Homo sapiens: one gene and its partner. The protein of the gene in region 2 purifies or fractionates together with the protein of the main gene of each other region. This does not show direct contact. Each region holds a gene or a part of one and is shown on either strand. Other genes may lie near its edges.

What was found.
Region 1: the proteins of KCNJ11 (region 2) and MINDY2 purify together in Homo sapiens (affinity purification with mass spectrometry; 3 studies listed by BioGRID and IntAct, with this or other methods). This does not show direct contact.

What each region holds. Positions count from the first base shown.
Region 1 is NC_000015.10:58,766,185-58,774,628, reverse strand, and holds the start of MINDY2 (ubiquitin carboxyl-terminal hydrolase MINDY-2), read right to left. Parts: upstream 3,328-8,444; 5' UTR 3,234-3,327; coding exon 2,394-3,233; intron 1-2,393. UniProt on the Homo sapiens protein: Hydrolase that can remove 'Lys-48'-linked conjugated ubiquitin from proteins. Binds to polyubiquitin chains of different linkage types, including 'Lys-6', 'Lys-11', 'Lys-29', 'Lys-33', 'Lys-48' and 'Lys-63'.
Region 2 is NC_000011.10:17,385,152-17,392,804, forward strand, and holds KCNJ11 (ATP-sensitive inward rectifier potassium channel 11), read right to left. Parts: upstream 3,509-7,653; 5' UTR 2,941-3,508; coding exon 1,768-2,940; 3' UTR 97-1,767; downstream 1-96. UniProt on the Homo sapiens protein: Inward rectifier potassium channel that forms the pore of ATP-sensitive potassium channels (KATP), regulating potassium permeability as a function of cytoplasmic ATP and ADP concentrations in many different cells.

The DNA of each region.
Region 1 (8,444 bases), on a different chromosome or scaffold from region 2:
TCCATAGCATATTAGAGCTTCTCACATTGCACTGTAATTATTGTTTATATGTCTGTCATCCCACTAGATAGTCAGCTACACGAGGGCAGATTTGCATCATACTCATCTTTGCATTTCCTTTTTTTTTTTTTTTTTTCTTTTTTTGGGACGGGGTTTCACTCTTGTTGCCCAGGCTGGAGTGCAGTGGCGTGATCTCGGCTAACCGCAACCTCCACCTCCTGGGTTCAAGAGATTCTCCTGCCTCAACCTCCCAAGTAGCTGGGATTACAGGTGCCCACCACCATGCCCGTCTAATTTTTTGTATGTTTAGTAGAGACGGGGTTTCACCATGTTGGCCAGGGTGGTCTCGAACTCCTGACCTCAGGTGATCCACCCGCCTCGGCCTCCCGAAATGCTGGGAATACAGGCGTGAGCCACCGCGCCCGGCCTCATCTTTGCATTTCTAGTACCTCACGCACAGTGGGAACCCAAACACTTGATCATTCACTTGAATCTGTCTGAATTGAATGAGTCAGTTTAATATGCATCTATCCCCAAATACTCCACACCACAGTACTTGCCCTTTCCTCTGAATTTCTGCAGTACTACATAAGAAAAAAGACTAAAGGAAAATAATAGTTATTCCTTCCTACAAAAAAGATTAGGGACTCTGGCCCGTTAGAGCAAGTCTAACTAACTCCCTAGTTGAGGGCCCTTATCAAATGGCTCTTGTTCACCTTTTCAACCTTATTTTTCATTATTCTCCAACATTAGCTTACCACTTCTGTCATGTAATAAACATATAAACACACAATATCCATTCTATTTTCATTCCTTTGGTTTATACTCTTCTCTCCCCTGGGAATTCCATTTCCCTGTTATTCTAAATTCTCTTCCTTAAAAGATCTGTTAAATTGCTCTAATTTGTCTTTAAAACAAACAAACAAACGAAAAAAAAAAAGATTGGTTCAAGACCCATAAATCCCATGAAGTTTTCTAGGACTACGCCATACCAAAGGAAAATGTCCCCTTTTTGAATATCAAATGCATTTCCACAGATTTACCACAGTTTACCTACCACTTGTCTCATATAACTTACTATTTCTTGTTCTTAAACAGTTTCCAGTAAGTTAATGATGCCACCTCAAACAGCTTGACAGCCTTTTAAGGGCAGGTACTGTCTTCACTTAAAACATCTCAGTGCCATTATGCACCAGACAATGGCAAGGTTTCTAATTTTATTTCTTTTCTATCAGTCCTTGCTAGCGACAGGAAGATAAAGGCATGTTTGATAAACACTATTCCCTTTACTTGATTTTCTACCTAAGTGTTTAGAAGAATCCAGGTTATTTTTCTTTTTCTTTTAATATAGGGTCTCACTGTATTGCCCAGGCTGGTCTCAAACTTCTGGGCTCAAGCGATTGTCTTGTGTCAGCCTCCAGAGTAGCTGAGCTTACGGAGTAGCTGGGATTACAGGCGCACACCACCACACCCAGTTTGTTTTGTTTTTTTTTCCTAGGAAACATTGCATCTACAGATATAATTATCAATTTGAAAATAAAATAGGTGCTGTGAGATGCATCTTCTCAGCACCCTAACACTGCAAGCTTAAATGAGACACTTCATTTGACAGGTAACTCGCTCTGAGTCCTCAACATACCTATTTTTAAGGGTCTTTCCCTTTTTTGCTCCTTCACCTTAGACATACCTTTTCTTATTTTAGTTCTTTAGAGTTTTAGCTCCCTTAACACATTCGGATGCATGGTTACTGGTAATAATGCCAAACCATTTAAGGAGAGCCAAAGAAATGAGGCAAGTAAAAATCATGCATAAAATGAAAACAATCTTTGAAAACCAAGAAGTTACGGTAATTGGGTCTCAGACCAATGCTTTTCCTTAAATGGAATTTGTCTAAAGAGCCACATCTTCCCCATCACCATTCTCTTAAGTATCTACACACAAATGGGGCATTAGTTGGAAATCAAACTAAATATAACCATGAAAACTTAGTCCATGATATCACGGATTGATGGTAACTTCTGAAGATTACTTTCTCCAATTCTTCACTTTTTTGCATATGTGATAAGGTCAGTAAGAAAATGTAGGAAATTATAGTTTAAAATAATCATAAGATTTAAGATGCTCTAAGTCCTTCTTGTTTCTAAGTGTATCAACCACAATTGAATGTTGAACTCTTAAACACTACAAGAGAAGACTGAGGTTAGGGGCAATTCTTTTCGATATATGTATAAAGGAATATTCCTTCAACATGGAAGTCTTGGAATGAATTTCATGTAAGAAGGGGACTGATGAATGAGGAAAGAAAGGAAGCCATCACCTGACATGCAGCAGCTCCCTCACCCCGTTTTCCTCCACCCCAAAAGCTGTAGGAAGTAGAAAGCTGCAGAATGTACCTTCCAGGCCAGGAGCAAAACATTGAGGATGGCCAGCAAGGGGCAGGGTCCGTTCTCATTCTGGGTGATGATGGGTGTGTTCTCTTCCTTCCACTGGATCCACTTGATGTGATACACAGATTGTCCCGGGAAGCGTTCCTTGGAGGCCGCCAGCACCTGAGCGGTCTCCTCCCCCTCCTCCTCCTTGCACAGAGGAACAGCCCCGGGCAACACCGCCGCGCCCTCCTCCTCCTCAGGGACCCTGTTCTCCGCTCCCTCCTCACTATTGAACTCGCAGCTACTGGGAAAAGAATGCAGGTTAGAGAACGACTCCAGAGAGTCCAGGCTCGGAGATTCCCCAGGAGGGCTCGGGTCGCTGCAACTGCTGCTGAGGCCGCCGGCGCTGCTGGGCTCTTCGGAGCCGGCGGCGGTCAGTTCTGCTTGGCAGGTGCCGGCGAGATCCGGGCGGGCTCCCGCGTCTCCGGCGGTACCCAACTCATGACCCACTCCGGCCACGGCTGTCTCCGGGGAGGCGGTCACCTTGTACTGCCCTCTCAGAGGCGCCTCGGCGGCAGCAGGACTCTCCAAACCACTGTCCTTCAAGTCCAAACCCGCGGAGGAGCTGCAGGGTCCGGGAACCTCAGGAGAGCCCGCGGGAGAAGCCGAGTCCGGGAGGCTCCTCCTGGCGGCCGCCGCCCCCAGCCCATTCCCGCCGCTGGTCTCCGCCGCCCATACCCCAGGACCATCACCAGCGGCGAGCCTGGTCTCCTGTAGCCCTTCCTGCGAAGAACCTGTCCCTGACGCTGGCCCGGCCGCCACCCCGTGTTCTAGCGGCTGCAGGCTCTCGGGGCTGCTCTCCATACCGGGCCGCCCGCCCCCAGCTCTATGGAGACCGCGGCCACTTCTCCGCAGCCAGCGCCTTGGACGCCATGACAGCTGTATTGGCAGCAACAGCGCCCTGGCGCGGCCTCGGTCAGGCACGTCACCGGGGAGAGTACTAAGAACGCGCGCGGGCGCGCGCTACCGCTCTGTCCGTGCGCTCTGAGCTTGCCTCCGCCTGACTGCGCGCTGAGAGGCGAAGGCGAACCACTCAGCAGCCGCCCACGTGGCCCAGCCCTTTCCGTGCGTCCGACCGAGCTCGCTCTCGGAAGGCCGGGCGTGGAGGGCGTGGCTAGGAGGGCGCGGCCGGGGGGCGCGCCCCCGCGGCTCAGCTCCAGTAGGAAAACATCCTCTCACTATGTGGCCGGAAGTTGAACTCCCGGGCAGCTCCCTTGTGTGCGGCTTCTTTAAAGGGAAGGCAGGAGGCGGACAGCTTGGCTGTGACCCTTTAGCGCTGGGTCGCGTGTGGCCCACCCTCGGCCTGAGGCATTGTTGGGTGGTTGGAGGTGGTTGTAGTATTTGGAAAAGAACTTGTCCCTGAAGGGCTCAGGGGACTTGGTTTCTCAGCTCCTAATATGGAAAATTAAGGCATTTCTTACGAGATGCAGATTTTAAAGCAGGCATATCTACTCGACGGCTTTGGATTACTGCACTGCACAAATTCCAGTCTCTGTCGGTTTTGGCTGAGAAGAGCTGTGCTTCTCACCAGCTACTGGTGAGACATTCGCCCTACAGGAAAGGGTCGGTATGATTGTGGACATTGACATGCGTAGCAAAAGAAAGTGGCTAATTTGCGCCAATAATAATAAATTAGCTTGTATTTGAATTAGCCAAGTCTTTGCGGTTTTGCTAACTTGGCTTCACTTTGCATGGAGTGGGAAGCGCCTGCTTCTGAAAAGGTGACTTTTTTCCTAATTAGAATGGACTCCTCTTAAGGCCATGCAGTTTTCAAAGAAGAAAGACAAGCTGGACGTTTTGTTAGTAACAAAATGTATGTGGGTCCTATTCTAACTTGTTACAGAAAAGGGCTTTTTCCCCCATCTTTTTTCTTTCAACATTTTCTAGGCTGTTGGGGATAAAAAATTAACGAGACAGGTCTTCCTTCGCAGACATATAAATACCTGATACATAATTAGAATGTGATATTTTTGCACCTCTGTTGGTTAGAGAAGGCAGACAAGATTGCAAAGTAGTATTTCATTCATTCCTTTAATACATTTTAGTACCAAGTAAGTTGCTGGATGCTGTCTGTCACTGGAGATGCCATAGTGGATCACGGAGCTTATATCTTCATGGAGCTTACTGTCTTTTTTTTTCTTATTGCTATTTTTTAATACATACTTATATGTTTTTTTGTTTTTGTTTTTGCTTTTGTTTTTTTTTTTTTTTGAAACGGAGTCTCTCTCTGTCGCCCAGGCTGGAGTGCAGTGGCACGATCTTGGCTCACTGCAACCTCCGCCTCCCGGGTTCAAGCGATTCTCCTGCCTCAGCCTCCCGAGTAGCTGGGACTATAGGCGCCCGCCACCATGCCTGGCTAATTTGTTGTTGTTGTTGTTTTTGAGACGGAGTCTTGCTCTGTCGCCCAGGCTGGCGTGCAGTGGCGCGATCTCGGCTCACTGCAAGCTCCGCCTCCCGGGTTCACGCCATTCTCCTGCCTCAGCCTCCTGAGTAGCTGGGACTACAGGCGCCCGCCACCACGCCCAGCTAACTTTTTGTATTTTTAGTAGAGACGGGGTTTCACCGTGTTAGCCAGGATGGTCTTGATCTCCTGACCTCGTGATCTGCCCACCTCGGCCCCCAAAGTGCTAGGATTACAGGCGTGAGCCACCATGCCCGGCCACACATAATATGTATTACATATAATACATGAATGTTGGATACTTATATTCTTGTTTACCTGAGAATGCAGAAGACTGTGCCCCTTTTTTTTTTTTTTTTTTTTTTTTTCCCACTTGAGACGCAGTCTCGCTTTGTCACCCAGGCTATAGTACAGTGGCGCCATCTCAGCTCATTGCAACCTCCACCTCCCGGGTTCAAGTGATTCTCCTGCCTCAGCCTCCCAAGTAGCTGGGACTACAGGCGCACGCCACCAGGTCCAGCTAATTTTTTTTGTATTTTTAGTAAAGACGAGGTTTCACTACCTTGGCCAGGCTGGTCTCTAACTTCTGACCTTGTGATCCGCATTGACATGATACTATGGTATATGTCCAACTGTAGGGTCCAGCCTTACGGGGCTTAGCGGGTGTTCTCCCCGTGTTCAGAGACGAGAGATTGTAATAAATAAAGACACAAGACAGAGAGATAAAGAGAAAACAGCTAGGCCCGGCGGACCGCTACCGTAAAGATGCGGAGACCGGTAGTGGCCCCGAACGGCTGGGCTCGCTGATATTTATTGCATACAAGACAAGGGGGCAGGGTAAGGAGGGTGAATCTTTTAAGTGATTGACAAGATGAAGCAAGTCACGTGATTACAGGATGGCGGGGGCCTTCTCTTTTAGGTAGCTGAAGCAGAGAGAGAAGGCAGCATACGTCAGCATTTTCTTCTCTGCACTTACAAGAAAGATCAAAGACTTTAAGACTTTCACTGTTTCTTCTACCGCTATCTACTACGAGCTTCAAAGAGGAACCAGGAGTATGGGAGGAGCATGAAAGTGGACAAGGAACGTGACCATTGAAGCACAGCACCACAGGGAGGGATTTAGGCCCCAGGACTGCAGGCAGGCCTGGATAATATCCAGCCTTCCACAAGAAGCTGGTGGAGCAGTGTTCCCTGACTCCTCCAAGGAAAGGAGACTCCCTTTCACGGTCTGCTAAGTAACGGGTGCCTTCCCAGACACTGGCGTTACCGCTTGACCAAGGAGCCCTCAAGCGGCCCTTACGCGGGCGTGACCGAAGGCTCACCTCTTGTCTTCTAGGTCACTTCTCACAATGTCCCTTCAGCACCTGACCCTATACCCGCTGGTTATTCCTAGGTTATATTAGTAATGCAACAAAGAGTAATATTAAAAGCTAATGATTAATCATGTTTATAATAATGATTGATAATTGTCCATGATCATCTCTATATCTAATTTGTATTATGACTATTCTTATTCTAACTATTTTCTTTATTATACTGAAACAGTTTGTGCCTTCAGTCTCTTGCCTCGGCACCTAGGTAATCCTCCACCCACATCCTACTCTTGGACAACAGGAAAATTAGAAAAGATAATGGAGAGCTTTTTCAGAATGTTGAATTTAGGAGTTGTGTGTGCTTTTGATCTCCATGTCAATCCATAAACAATAAATCCTGTTCTTAAATTTGAATTTTCTGCCTAAAAAAGAATTGGAGATGTTAATAGATTAAAATATATGCTGCTGGTTTAAGCATTTTACGGTATTTTAGGCCATGAAATATAAATAAGAATAATACAGATTTCAAGGCCGGGCGCAGTGGCTCACGGCCTGTCACCTCAGCACTTTGGGAAGCTGAGGCAGGCAGATCACCTGCAGTCGGGAGTTCAAGACCAGCCTGACCAACATGGAGAAACCCTGTCCCTACTAAAAATACAAAATTAGCTGGGTGTGGTGGCACACGCCCACAATCCCAGCTACTTGGTAGCCTGAGGCAGGAGAATCGCTTGAACCTGGGAGGCAGAGGTTGCAGTGAGCCGAGATTGCGCTATTGCACTTTAGCCTGGGCAGCAAGAGTGTAACTCCATCTCAAAAAAAAAAAAAAAAAGGAATACAGATTTCAGGAAATTTAGAATTTAGCATAGTACCTCAAATGTAAAAAGGAAATGTATAAAGCTGTGTTATATGAATAAATTAAATGAATGAATCATTTATAGGCCTGTGAGCCATAGGAGAGCCAAAAATCATGGCATACACTTCTCAAATAATGGCCCTTCACCATTTTTCAAAACCTTTACTTGGATAAACCTGTACTTGCTGTGGTAGTTTTTATTGGTATGCGTTTCAAATGCTCACATGGCATCATTTAATATTTTTTTTGTAACAAACAGAACCAGTTTTTCTTTTCATGCTGTTGTCAACAATTAAGCCTAGATAAACAGCTGTGAAAATATAGGTAGTTATTTAAGTTCATGAAAAGGTACATAGTTATTTTTTAAGGGAGGTGGGGAGTGGCATCTAGGGAGAATACCAGAAGACAAACTGATATTTTATTCTTATTTTGCGTATATGTATCTTTAGGTAAACTCTGAGGTAAGATTGCTGTTTTTAAGTTAAATAGTACCATCCAAATTTTATTTAATTAAATTAATTTATTTATTTAAGACAGGGTCTCACTCTGTCAACCAGGCTGGAGCACAGTTGCGCAATCATGGCTCACTGAAATCTCAACCTCCCAGGTTCAAGTGAGCCTCCTGCCTCAGCCTCCTGAGTAGCTGGGACTACAGGTGTATATCACCATGCCCTGCTAGTTTTTAAAATTTTTGTAGCATATGTTGCCCAGGCTGGTCTTGAATTCCTGAGTACAAGCAATCCTCCCAACTTGGTCTCTCAAAATGCTGTAATTATAGGCATGAGCCACTGCACCTGGCTGCTATCCAAATTTTAAAAATTATTTTTCAAAGTTTCAGATATAATAGTCTTAAAAGTTAAATAGTTTATATAAAAACGACGCACTTCCCTGTTCTGTCCTTCCAGACCCTTGAGTCCTGTTCTTTATAAACAGCCTCACAGTCTCTTTCAACTCATAGCTGTTTCTTTTTTTTTTTTGAGACACGATCTCACTATGTTGCCCAGACTGGAGTGCTGTGGCTATTCACAGTGGCTGTTGTGGCACACTACAGCCTCTAACTTGGCTCAAGCAATCCTACTGACTCAGCCTCCAGAGTAGCACAAACTATAGGCGCTCACCACCACACCCAGCCTCATAGCTGTTCTTTAGCTCTTTGTACCCTTGCTTCTGAGAAACATGTTTACACTCTGGTTTCTACATTTAACAGTTGTAGGCTGAGTGCTGTGGCTCATGCCTGTAATCCCAACACTTTGGGAGGCCAAGGTGGGAGGATTACTTGAGCCCAGGCGTTCGAGGCTGTAGTGAGCTACGATGGCACCACTCCACTCCAGCCTGGGTAACAGAATAAGATCGTCTAAAAAAACCCAAAACACTGTATTGCATTCACTGGACAGAAAAAAATAATTGTATATATTGTTTATTGATTTATTCCCATGGAAGATGAGGAT
Region 2 (7,653 bases):
CCTAAAATCGTGGTCTCAGCTAGGAGGGGACACCGTGTGGAAAGAAAGACCTGGCAAAGAAACATGACCAAGGGCAAAATAAAAGCACCGTCTCTCTTTAACACTTGTTTGGCCGTTTCCTCAGCATGTAGCTGATTCAGCAGCAATCACAATAGTTAACATTTATTGAGCACTTACTGTAGACCAGGCACTTCAGCATTTTACATATTTTTCATTTACTTCCAAAACAATTCTATGAGGTAGGTACTATTAGCATCCATGTTATAGAAGAGGCAACTGAGACACAGAGAGGCTAAGTTACTTGACAAAAGTCATACAGCTAGAGCCAGGATTCGAACCCAGGCAGTTGGCTCGAGAGTTAGTGCTCCAATTACTACACTAATGCCTATGACACCTCTATACCTCTCCCTGGGCACTCCAGCCTTCCAGCAGGTCCCTGGGAGTAGAGACAGAGCCCAGGGCTGCAAAGCCTGGTGAGTGCCCAAAGGCTGAGTTGGCCAGACAGGCTGACAGGGCTGGGCCACCTGAGACAGGAGAGGGGAAAGTCCCCCTGAACTGGTGGAAGAGGTGCCAGCCTTCCGTCCCTCCCCTGCCCTCCCCGCTAGGGTCTATGGCGCCTCTTGAAGGGGGTGGCAGCTGCCAGTCCCTGCCTCCCTTCCCACCAGCATGCTTGCTGCCTCCCCAGCAAGAAAAGCCCAGAGTTTAGGTCATGAGGGGGAGGCTTTATTGACAACGGAGAAGGCAGAGTTCTAGGCAAGTTCACACAACACTGCTCCAAGGGTCCAGGCACGGGTCAAACCCGTCAGGACCAAGGGCCTCTTCACCTCAGGGACCTCAGTCCCTCCCACCATCCTGAACCTTCCCACACCTTTTCCAGCAACCCAAAGATATCCACCCCCAAGCCACCTTCTGGACAAAGTGAGTGGCAGCCACTGTTGTGGAGCCAGGACCAGAGTTGGGTCTGAGGCCTAATCATGTGTGGTGGGCACAGTACCCCCTCTCCTCAGCCTCTGGGGACAGGCAGGAGGTAGGCAGGGGCAGCAGCCCCAGCCCACAGAGCCCTCACTGCACGAGGCCGATGTGGCAAAAGGCAGGAGCCCTGGCATCTCCTCCTCCCTGTGCCTGAGCGGGGCTCTACAAAGCCGAGCCTCCTCAGGTCACCTTCCCCTGCTTCCTCCCCTTCCAGACCTGAAACTGGCCCTCGGAGGGGAGCCCTGTCAGCCCCAGGCTGTCCCTGCCGGTGTAGGCTCCACAGCACCAACCCTCCAGCGGGAACACCCTCTCTCATCAACTGCCCTCCCTGCTGGCCAGGCCCAGCCCTTAGCCAGGTGCTTTTTCAGGGACCAAGTAGAGCTGGGGCCTGACCACAGGCACTTCTTGGAGCCACAGACGCAAAGCAGCAGCCCTCGGGGATTGTTCTTCCCCAGCCACCGGCCCAGAGTGTGGCTGGTCAATCGTGGGGACCCAGGACTGGCTGGACGCACAGCTCTAGGGCCCAGTACCTCCCACAGCCTCTGCAGCCTTGGGCGGGGGAGAGGGGTGAGCCAGTCCTGAATTGGGTTGGGAGGAGCAGGGACAAAAATAACCCAGTACAGGTTCCTGCTGAGGCCAGAAATAGCATAGTGACAAGTGCCTTGTAACACCCTGGATGAGCAGCAGGGGGAGGCTGAGCTGAGGCTGGCCCAGCCTCACACCAGGCCCTGGCCGGGCTACATACCACATGGTCCGTGTGTACACACGCGTGTGGGGGGCCCGAGAGACCATGGCTCAGGACAGGGAATCTGGAGAGATGCTGAACTTGGGCTTGGCCTTGGCCATGGGCACGCTGCGCTTGCGCAGGGGCCCGCGGGCTGAGGCGAGGGTCAGAGCTTCCAGTAGGCTGTGGTCCTCATCAAGCTGGCGGGCCGTGCAGAGTGGTGTGGGCACTTTGACGGTGTTGCCAAACTTGGAGTAGTCCACAGAGTAACGTCCGTCCTCCTCAGCTACAATGGGCACAAAGCGCTGGCCCCACAGGATCTCATCGGCCAGGTAGGAGGTGCGGGCCTGGGTGGTGATGCCCGTGGTTTCCACCACGCCTTCCAGGATGACGATGATCTCGAGGTCCTGGTGGTGGTGCAGGTCGCTGGGTGCCAGGTCGTAGAGTGGGCTGTTGGCATCAATGACATGGTAGATGATCAGCGGGGCCACCAGGAAGATGCTGTTGCCACCCACGCCGTTCTCCATGGGGATGTCCACCTGGTGGAGGGGCACCACCTCGCCCTCGGGGCTGGTGGTCTTGCGTACCACCTGCATGTGGATGGTGGCGCTGATGATCATGCTCTTGCGGAGGTCACCCACACGTAGCATGAAGCAGAGGCGGCCGTGGCGCAGGGCGATCACCGCATGCTTGCTGAAGATGAGGGTCTCAGCCCTGCGGTGGGCTTGGGCAGTCTTCATGAAGATGCAGCCAAGCATGATGGCGTTGATCATGAGCCCCACGATGTTCTGCACGATGAGGATCAGGATGGCCAGTGGGCACTCCTCAGTCACCATGCGCCCCCCAAAGCCAATAGTCACTTGGACCTCAATGGAGAAAAGGAAGGCAGACGAGAAGGAGTGGATGCTGGTGACACAGGGCTCAGCAGTGCCCTCGCTGGGGGCCAGGTCACCGTGGGCGAAGGCGATGAGCCACCAGGCCATGGCGAAGAGCAGCCAGCTGCACAGGAAGGACATGGTGAAGATGAGCAATGTGTGTGGCCACTTGAGGTCCACCAGCGTGGTGAACACGTCCTGCAGGAAGCGGCCCTGCTCCCGGATGTTCTTGTGGGCCACGTTGCAGTTGCCTTTCTTGGACACAAAGCGGGCCCTCCGCTGGCGGGCACGGTACCTGGGCTTGGCAGGGTCCTCTGCCAGGCGTGTCAGCACGTATTCCTCGGGGATGATGCCCTTGCGGGACAGCATGGCTCCGGTGACCCCCAGGGAGGGGCTTCCCCCATCGGAGGCACCCCTCGGACGTGGCCTAGGGCCTCACTGCAGAGTCCTCTCGGTGGGCACCTTCTCACCCTGGGGCTGCACTCAGCCTGTGCTGGCCTCACTTCTGAGATAACTCCCCACCAGACTCTTCCTTACCTCCACCTGGGTCCCACTTCACTTCTTAATACCAGCCTCAGGCCGGGCGCGGTGGCTCACGCCTGTAATCCCAGTACGTTGGGAGGCTGAGGAGGGCAGATCACTAGGTCAGGAGTTCGAGACCAGCCTGACCAACATGGTGAAACCCCATCTCTACTAAAAATACAAAAGTTAGCCGGGCATGGTGGTGCGCACCTGTAATCCCAGCTACTCAGGAAGCTGAGGCAGGAGAATCGCTTGAACCCGAGAGGCGGAGGTTGCAGTGAGCCAAGATCACGCCACTGCACTCCAGCCTGGGCGACAGAGCGAGACTCCGTCTCAAAAACAAAAAACAAAACAAAAAAAACAGCCTCACCCTTGAGCCCACCTGCCTGGCGCCTAGGGAGCCCCCAACCCTGCCGGCTCTCCACCTGGCCCTGCGTCCTCCCCCAGCTTCCCCCACCAGCTGACCACCCCTGGGCCTCCCGCTAAGAGCCCTTCTCCCCGCCCAGCCTGCCTTCCCAGCCCAGCTCAGAACTTAACACCTCCGGATCTCTCCCACTAACCGGACCTCACCCCCACCTCCGGGTCTCCCGCCTCACCTGTCTGGCCTTCGGGCTCCCAGGCTCCAGCTCAGGTCCTGGCCACCCCCGCCCCGTCTCTCCTCCAGGTGCGCCCCCTATGTCCTACTCCACCCCTCCCGGAGCGCCCCCGCCGCTTTCCGGATCCCCCTCCAGCTCTCGTCCTCTCTGTCTCCTTGGGATCCTGCGTTCTCTGGAGTCACCACCCCACCCGGCTCAACCGCGGCTCCCCGGACCTGCGCGCGACCCGGCGGGGCTGACTCCGAGTCGCGGCCTCCCGGTCCCTGCCGCCCGCCCGCGCCGCGGCTCCCGCTCCGCGCCGGGTCCCGGCCCCGCCCGCCGCCGCCGCTGCACCTGCTCCTGCTCCTCACGCCACGGCCGTCGCCTCCCCGCCCCCTCCCGCCGCCCGGGCGCTCGCGGCTGGCCGTCCTCCCGTCTGTCTGTCCGTCCGTGGGTCCGCGGAGACCGACCTGGGCTAGGCAGGGGTCTAGGACGGCGGGAGGGGGGCGCACGAGGAGAGGAACGGGGCCGGGGACCGCCAGGGGGAGCCCGACCTGCACCGGAGCGCAGGGGGCGGGGCCGGAGCAAGCCCCCGCCCCTCCCGCGCCCCTCCCCGCCCCCGCCCTCCACCTCCCCTCCCGGGACTCACAACCCGGCCTTTGGAGTTTTTCTGATCCGCGGAACCCAGAGGTTCCTCCTGCCCACGCTCTACGAAAGTGGGGGGCTGGGAGGGATCTGTGACCCGCCCTCCCAGTCTGGGGCCGCCGCCCTGTCGCCCTGGCTCCCCTCCCCCAATATCCCCATCCGTATTTGGGTCAGTAATCCGCCTCTCGGCCGCGCCAGGTTTGCAGGTTCCCCGGGAAAGGAGGCGCTGAGAGGCGGCGCCACCAATCCCAGGGCTGGCGGAAATTAGGCGGTCCGAGGACTTCTCAACCTGCAGCTGCTTCTCTTTGGGGGATGCTCTTAATCTTAGTCTTGAATCCTTTGACAATCTGATGGAAGCTCAGACTCCCTCTCATTAAAAAAAAAAAAAAAAAAAAAAAAAAAAAAGGCCTCGGCAGGAAAGGAGCACAGTTTAACACCTGCTACTGCTGTGGGGCAGCCTGGGCGGCTCCATCTTCTCAGCCATTCCGGCCCTACTTTAAAGAAGGTTTGAGCCGAGGCCACTTGCTTTACACTTTCTCACACCTGTCACCTGACTTCTTCCACGTTAGGTCATGGGTGGTATTTAGGCCTGAACAGTGTGTTAGGGCTGCCTCGGGCACTGGGGGACCCAGGCTCTTGGTCCCGGCATGGTGGTGTTTCTGTTCAGGCATCAGCCTGAGGCTGCCCTGTGGCATGGACCCGGGTTCTCAGCTGGGAGGGAAAGCCTGCTAGATCTCTGTTGTTGGAACAGTAACGGCTTTACCGCTGTCTGTGGCTCAGATCCTTATGGAAGAACCCCTGACCATCTGCGGCCATTTTGTTGGAGTGGGGGCTTGAGACAGGGTCTGGAAAAGGCAGTGTGGCTGTGGGCCACAGTGGGGGCAAGATATGCATTTTATATTGGATTTTCCTTTCTCTCCCTACCCACCTGCAGGCAGAGCGAACACCGCTACAAAGGATGGGTGTGATCATGGGCTATATTAACAAAGATGCAGTGTCTAGGAAGGGGAGGGTAAAATGAGATGAGCAGAGTGGGAAGCTCAAGGAGACAGGGTTACATGGGGAAATCTCTGAGGCAACTACAACTGTCCAGCCATCAGAAAAGGAAAGTCCCCCAGGGATTTGGGCACTATTGCAGAAACACCTGGCCTTGAAGGAGGATGAACTAGTAGTTTTTTGTGGCCCAAAGGGTAGAACCAGGACACTAAGTGGAACAGAGGCAGGCTTTGGTTTCACATATGCAAGAGTCAGTTCTAATAACAATAACCAGAGATGAGCCACATCTGTGGGGTACCCAAATCAAGTCGGTGGGCCATGAGGGATGTTATACAGGGATTTTGGGCCAGGATGACCTTGGGCATCCCTGCAACACCTCACTGTGGGCCCAGCCCTGCCCCTGCTACTTCCCTTCAATCTGTTGAGGTGGGGTGGCTTTGGAGCAGTGGTAGGCTTGTGGAGTCCTCTTTCAGTTCCCCGGCTCTGCTCTTGGGAGATCTCACAGTGGAGGAAGCTGCTGGGCCCCTGGGGAAATCTCAGAGCTGGAAAGGCTGGGTTCTGCCTCCTGGTGCAGCCTTGAGGCCTTACCTCCCTCCCTGCTGCTCACCCTTCTGAGAGGCTGAGTCTCCCACCTGAAAGGCTCAGCCTCCCCTTTTGCTCCATCCTGCACTTGCTTATAGTCATCTCCACCAAATACTGAACTTGTCAAGTCGCTTTCTTGCTCAAAACCCTTCTCCCTTTTTGTCCATGGGCATAGCCCACACTCCTTGCTCTGGCATTCAGGGCTCTCTGATATGATGCCCTCCCCACTGCTGTAATCTCTCTCCCACCTCCCTGATCAACCAACACTCTTAACACACTTCCACCATCACTCCTTAGCTCCTGCTGTCCCTACCTGCCACCCCAACCCTTTCTCTGACTTTCTGCCTAACCAATCCCTATCCCCCACAATATTTAACTCAAATTTTGTCTTTTCCAGGCAGGCTGCCAGGCTTTACAGAGCTCTTCCTTTCCGAGCTTCTCTGGCTCCTGGAACATCCACAGGGGTCTGCACTGGACCTGCCTCCGATAACTGGTGGGCTTTTCTTATGTTGTGCCTCTATGATCCCCTTGCAGCCAAGAGGATGCAGGTTCAAGACTCTTAGGTCTGCACCTCAGGGCTTGGTGCAGCCAGTACTGCAGATGATATGCAAATGATCATAAAATGAGATGTAAATGAGCACCTGCCATTTCTTGGCCAAGGGCAGGTGTGCACTCTTGTTTCGTGATGCAGAGGAAGTCAGGACAGCTGCTGTTTTAGTCTCCCTGGTGTCTGGGCTCCAGCGTCTCCCAGACACCACCTGGCTGACCTGTGACTCATGCACTGTGCTTTCCCTCTGAAGGACCACCTTTCCACTTCTGAATGCCCCTGCTTGAGGGATGGAGATGGAGACATGATCCAGGCCTAGCCAGCCAGTGTATGCCACCCCTCTGATCACAGTGGGGTGGGGATGGGAATGTGATCCAAGTTGGTGCATTGAGATTTGCTCCCAAGCTTTTGCTGGAACTATTGGGAAGGAGTATCTGTTTTGCCTCTTGGGTTGCCTTGGGGCAGGATGTAAGCTGGACCTGCTAGTGGCCATCTGTCATAATGAAAGGGGAGGAAAATGGAACCCAGAAAGGAAGACACATCCCAGATGGATGTCAAACACCTGGGTCCAGCCATGCTTGAAGTAGTATACCTCTTAGCCTTGTCAGTCACATATTCAATAAATTCAGTTTCTGCTTAGGTTACTTTGAATTGGGTTCCTGTCATTTGCAATTGAAATAGTGTTAATCCAGATTTTAATTCAAGAATGAAAGTGAGAAGAAAGGAGACCAAGCTGTATGGAGATCTGTTACCTTATCTGATAAGCTCATTGCAGAAATGCTATCACCCTTGCTATGGACATAATTGTGTCCTGCCAAATTCACAGGTTGAAGCCTAATCCTACAATGTAACTGTATTTGGAAACAGGGCCTGTGAGGAGATAATTAAGGTTTAATGAGGTAATAGGGGTGGGGCCCTAATCCAATATGACTGGTGTCCTTTTAAGACACAGAGAGAAAGCAGGGATGCATGTGCACAGAGTAAAGGTCATGTGAGCACACAGCCAGAAGGCAGCCCTCTGCAAGCCAAGGAGAGAGGCCTCAGGAGAAACCAAACCTGCCAACACCTTGATCCCAGACTTCAGCCTCCAGAACTGTGAGAAAAAAGTCTGTTTTAAAGCCACCCAGTCTGTGATATGTTGTTGTGGCAGCCTGGCTGACTAATAGAGGCCTCATTTCACAGGTAAGGAAGCAGGCTTTTGCTCACACAGCTTCT